Linked DNA regions of Homo sapiens: region 2 is linked to region 1. Evidence: fine-mapped expression QTL. Tissue or cell type: prefrontal cortex. Region 1 holds a variant in brackets; the other region holds the start of a gene. All regions are shown on one strand. Distances are from middle to middle. Region 1 overlaps ARHGEF16 (Rho guanine nucleotide exchange factor 16). Region 2 holds the start of ARHGEF16 (Rho guanine nucleotide exchange factor 16).

Evidence for each region.
Region 2: it holds the start of ARHGEF16, and the variant in region 1 is fine-mapped to the expression of ARHGEF16 in prefrontal cortex (BrainSeq, PIP 0.95).

What each region holds. Positions count from the first base shown.
Region 1 is chr1:3,477,667-3,480,664 of GRCh38, forward strand. It overlaps ARHGEF16 (Rho guanine nucleotide exchange factor 16), which reads left to right. Exons shown (of 15, transcript NM_014448.4): 11 at 209-360; 12 at 758-946; 13 at 1,851-1,924; 14 at 2,146-2,247; 15 at 2,782-2,998. The coding sequence ends at 2,921. Among named protein-coding and RNA genes, the nearest start is that of ARHGEF16, 25 kb to the left of the region's middle. The variant ACC/A (reference allele first, on the strand shown) is at 1,743.
Region 2 is chr1:3,453,291-3,455,790 of GRCh38, forward strand. ARHGEF16 (Rho guanine nucleotide exchange factor 16) reads left to right here and starts at 1,375. Exons shown (of 15, transcript NM_014448.4): 1 at 1,375-1,521. RefSeq lists an enhancer at 1-209.

The sequences.
Region 1 (2,998 bases):
GCGCACCTCGATTTGAGGCCCGGACACATTGTGCCCCTTTCCTCTGTCCAGCCCCGACTGAGGGCAGCCAGCTGGTCACCCAGTCCAGAGGCAGGAGTCAGTCCCACCTGGTGCTATGCGTCCTTGACCCCCTGGGGACCTGCTCACCCCGGCTCTGTCCCCCCCAGTCCCTCGCACTGATCTCCGCCTCCCGGCTCTGTCCCCCCAGTCCCTCCCACTGATCTCTGCCTCCCGGTGGCTGCTGAAGCGCGGAGAGCTGTTCTTAGTGGAAGAAACCGGACTTTTTCGAAAAATTGCCAGCCGGCCAACGTGCTACCTTTTCCTGTTCAACGATGTCCTGGTTGTGACCAAGAAGAAGAGGTGGCCTTAGGGCAGGAGGGTGTGGGGAGCCCCACTCCATGGACACTGGACCGCTGGCCCTGGGGCAGGAGGGTACAGGGAGTTGGCCCTGAGCCCCTCTGACCTCAGAGCCGAGGCGCGGCTTCCACTCGGCACATGCTCTACGTGACACTCGGGGGCAGGTGGCGCTCGCTGTGCAGCCTCTGACCTCCTCTGCAGACCTGGGTCTGCCGGTGATAGCCACGAGGAGGACTCGAAAGCCATGGCCTCTGTTCTGTGGGACGCGGGAACTCTTGGAGCCCGTCCGTGGCTGCCTCCCCACCACTGCAGGGGAGCCGGGTGGGACCTGGACGGGAGCCCAGCAGCACTGGGTAGGAGCTGGGTGGGACCGTCCCACCGACTGCCCGTGTCTCCACAGCGAGGAGAGCTACATGGTCCAGGACTACGCCCAGATGAACCACATCCAGGTGGAGAAGATAGAGCCGTCTGAGCTCCCTCTGCCCGGGGGCGGCAACCGTAGCTCCTCCGTGCCCCACCCCTTCCAGGTGACCCTGCTTCGCAACAGCGAGGGCCGCCAGGAGCAGCTCCTGCTCTCCTCGGACTCCGCGTAAGTGGGCTCCCGGGAGGGCTGTTCCCAGGCCACAGGCACATTAGCTCCATGGGGACCGGGTTGTCCCCCTGCCTTGCTCGCTGTTGCATGGCTGGCTCTGAACGCCCACCGTGCACCTGGCCCTGCTGTAGGTGCTGAGGTAGAGCCAGAAACAACAGAAATGGCCTTGTCCTCATGGAGTTTATGTTCCCGGGAGGGGACGCACCAACAGTTGGGCCACCAGGAGTGGGAACAAGGGAGGAAACGAGGTGGGGGGTGGGGTGCGGGGGGTGCCGTGAGGAAAGCTTAGCCCATGTGAGCAGAGGGAGGTGGGGCCGGAGTGTGGGGTTGCTCAGCAGAGGCCCCGAGGCAGGAGAGCCCTGAGGCCCCGAGGGCACAGCTGCAGGTGGACAGCAGTGATGCTGGGGTGCAGCGACCCTGGCCGGTAGGGGCCAGTTCAGACAGCAGGGTGGTCCTGGCACTCAGAATGGGAGGGGGCACTGATGGAGTCTCTGCGGGCCCCCCGTGGAAGCCAGGCACACAGGTGCGCCAGTCTCCATATTCCCTCTCAGCTCGTCTTGACTGAGGACAGCTCTGGGCCGTTTCCAGATGAGGATGCTGAGGCTGAGTCTGTCACAGCAAACGGAGGGGGCAGGGAGCTGGGGCCCAGTGCCAGGAAACGGGGTGGCCTCAGGTCCAGCAGGCTGGGGTCTGGGTGTGTGGCCACTACCCAACTCTGTGACCTGGGGCTGGGGTGACTTGGGGGTTAGCCTGCCTGGCACAGTCTGCCCAGCCACTCCTGCCCACCCCCACC[ACC/A]CCCATCTCCTTGCCACGGCCCCCATGGGTGGCTGTCAGAAGTCAAGGAACATCAGACGGGCAGGATCGGTCTCCAGGCCTGGCTCATGCTGTCTCTGGTCCCCAGGAGTGACCGGGCACGGTGGATCGTGGCGCTCACACACAGTGAGAGACAGTGGCAGGGCCTCTCCAGCAAAGGAGGTGAGTGCGGGCTGGGGCCTGCAGGGCTGGCCCTCTGCCGTGGCTGGCACTTTGGCCCCCACTGTAGCCCAAGTGAGCCTGGCACCTGGCCTTGTGCTGGGGCCTGGCAGTCGGGGGATGGGGTGCCCCGGCCCCGGGGGATGTGTCTGCTGGAGGCCGTTGGGGAGTGGAGCCTGGCCCATGCCTCCCGACAGCCCTGTGATGGCCACTGCCCTATGCAGACCTGCCCCAGGTGGAGATCACCAAGGCCTTCTTCGCGAAGCAAGCAGACGAGGTCACACTGCAGCAGGCGGACGTGGTCCTGGTTCTGCAGCAGGAGGATGGTGAGTGCAGGGGCGTTGGGCACAGATGGGTGGGAACGGACAGGCGGGCGTGAGTCAGCGTCCAGCCTGGCCAGGTCCAGAGCATGCCGGGCTGCAGGCTGACCATGTGCTCACCCTCTCTCGAGGGCTTCCTCAAAGGGAGCACTCCCACATCCCCAAACCTCAGAATCAAAAGCAGGTTCATGGTCACTGTGTCCCACGTGGGGAGGAGGAGGTGTCTCTGCCCTCCCAGGGGATCCCCGCTCAGCCAGGCCCAGCACGAGCCTGCAGAGGGCAGGCAGGGCTCCTCCTCATGCCGGGCAGCGCTGTGTGGGGTGTGCTCAGCCCAGCACCCTTCTCAGTGGCGAGCACCTGAGCAGGGGCTGGGTGCCCGGTGACCATGAGCAAGGCCTCAGCAGCTGTCTGCTCTGAGCAGGAGCAGGTGGTCAGTTCTAGGAGAAGCCTGGCCCTGGTGTGCTCAGGCATAGCAGCTCAGAGGGGCCGGGGGACCCACGGCCTTCCCCTCACCTCCCTCCCACCCCTATCCGGGTTCAGGGTGGCTCTATGGCGAGAGGCTCCGGGACGGAGAGACGGGATGGTTCCCCGAGGACTTTGCCCGCTTCATCACCAGCCGTGTGGCCGTGGAGGGCAATGTCCGCAGGATGGAGCGTCTGCGGGTGGAGACGGACGTGTAGCCCTGGCGAGGCCAGCCGGCGGCAGCACAGCCTGTCTCCAATCAGCAAGTGGTCGTGCCTGGCTCTAGAGAGCGTGG
Region 2 (2,500 bases), 25 kb before region 1:
TGGACTCAGGAGGGCAGCAGCCACCTGCCTTTCCCAAGAGCTGCCTGGAAGTGGAACCTCCCCACAGGCGGCTCCAGGTGGAGGCTGCAGCCCACAGGGGTCAACTCTTAGCTCCTCCCTCATCCACCCTCCCTCCCAGGGGATGGATGGCCCACGGGACCCATCCCTGAGGCCAGCCTGTGCCCTGCCCAGATGGCACCTGACACCCAGGCAGCCCCAGCCACAGGGCAGACATTGGGGGACTAGTGGGTGGGGCGACCAGAGCAGGAGGGGCAGGGCAGGCCGCCCCTCTACCTATGACACCTGAGAAAATGCCAAGTGACAGCCCCAGAGCCTGTGGTGTCTCCTCAACCCGCAACGGGATCTCACGGCCGCCCAGGCCAGGGAGGCAGGTCCTGGGAGGAGGGTGGTCAGTGCCTCTGGCTGGCACACCGGTGCCCGGCCCACGACCCCAAGGCCTGGGGTCAGTGAGGGGACGCTGGTAGAAGCTGACCCAAAGCCCAGTGTGGATGTTCACATGGAGGCCTTTGGCAACAGGCCTTTCCTGAAAAGGGGATGATGGAGGCAGGTCAGAAGTGGGTCTGAGCCCTGGGACCTCAGGTCACATTCCTGAATGGCCAGGCCCAAGCTTGGGAGGCTTGGCTCAGCCCCCAGCCCCTCCCACAGCACCAGGTGGCCTGATTCCTGAACCCCCAGCTGGGGGGCTGCTGCAGCCTCTGCCCGGGGCCCTCCCTCACTTTCACACGGGTTCCCAGCAGGCGGAGCAAGGAAAGGCCAGGCTCGGAGTCCAGGCTCAGCCTTGTGCACGAGGGCGAGCGCCTTCCTTTCCAGGACTCGGTCCTTCTCTGTGAAATGGGGATGACCGCGACTCAACCACACCAAAAAGGTGGCCAGAGTGCTTTGCGCCCTCTTGGCTGTCTTTGGCCGCCTGGCTTCCAAGAATCCAGAGGGCCGGGCCTTTCTACAGCAAACATCGGTCCCCGCAGGGCTGGTCTCCTTCCCCGAAGGCTTCCTGGAGGAGGCAGTGGAGCGGGGCCTGGAAGGACAGTGACGCAGGAGGGAGCCGAGCCGCTCTGGCCCCACGCCTGGCAGGCGACTCCCGGGCCGGCCTCGAGGGGGCGTGGGCGCGGGGAGGGAAGGCGCAGGCACCGGGCGGCGGCGGCTCGGCGGGAATCGAGAGGCGCGATCCAGTCCGGGCGATCACGTGGGCTCCAGCCGGCCCAGGTGGGGCTGTGACCTGTGACGCAGGCGGCGCCGCCACAGGTGCCCGGGACGCGCCCCGCCCCCTCCCCGGCCCTCCCCGCCCGGGCCCTCGGACCCGGAGCAGCCCCGCCCGCCCAGCGCCCACCTGCGGGGCCGCAGCCGCCGCCCTCCAGCCAGACCGCGCAGGAAGCGGAGGAGGCGCCCCGGGCCGGACCGCGCTGCCGCAGGAGCGAAGCGGCTGCAGGACAGGACAGGACCCGGCGCTGGAAGCTGCACCGCCAGCGCGCCGCCCCTCCGTCCCTCCGCCCCGCGGCGCAGGTGAGCCTGGGGGACAGGTGAGCCGGGGGACAGGTGAGTCGGGGCTCGGGGGAGCCGGGTGGGGGGATTAGCCCGGGGGAGGCGCCGGGAACCCGGGGCGCTTCTCCTCCCCCTCGCTTTTCCCGCAAGCCCCGCCCCGGCAGCCGCAACAACTTCGCGACCCTCCTGGGGCTCCGCCGGGGCGGGAGAGGCGGGGCTCGCGGGCTGAGCCGGATGCGACTTTGGACCCGCCCCCCCACACACACCAGGCAGCCCCCTGCTTGCCCCCGCCCGCTCGCTCGCTGCCCTCTCTTGACCCCGAGTGGCCGCTTCCTCTTCCTAAAGGAAAACTTCCATGCAACCGGAACCTGGGTTCAGACTTGAGCGCCGAGGACTCTGGAAGCCCCAGGGAGTTTGAAAGAGCATGGGGTGGGGGGCGGAACAGAACGACCCTCCCGGGAGCTCTTTGGGGAATCTGACACCCAAACCTGCTTTGGCCCCAAAATTTCAGAAAAGCCCCGAGAAGGAAGAACCCCACACCCAAGACAAACCCAAACCATACGCCCCTCCCCCACCCTTGACCTTGGTGGGCGGTGGCAGGGAGGGACCTGCTTTGTCTCCCCTGAGAAGGGAGATGGGGAGGGGGAGGGGTGCGTCCCACCTACCAGGGAGCCGTGGCCGCTTGTCTTGGCCGCTCAGCCTCTTTCTGCGTCTGTGAAATGGGAACAGTATCCCTTTTGAGATTTGAGCAGGTGGGGGGACTGAGGGAGTGGCAGCGATGGCAGGTCTTGGTGACCTCTGCTTCTGACCTGAATCAAGGCCTGAATCTTCTCTGTGTCCTTGAGGGGAACAGTCTGTGCACCACCTAACATGGGGGCCTAGGGGGTGCGTGTGGGCCTGGCTGGGGGTCCAGCAAGAGGGTCCAGGTGCTGTGCCTGGCTGCAGGTCCTGACCCCTCCGTGGCATAGTTCCCAGGTGTGTGGGTTTCAGGCTCACATCC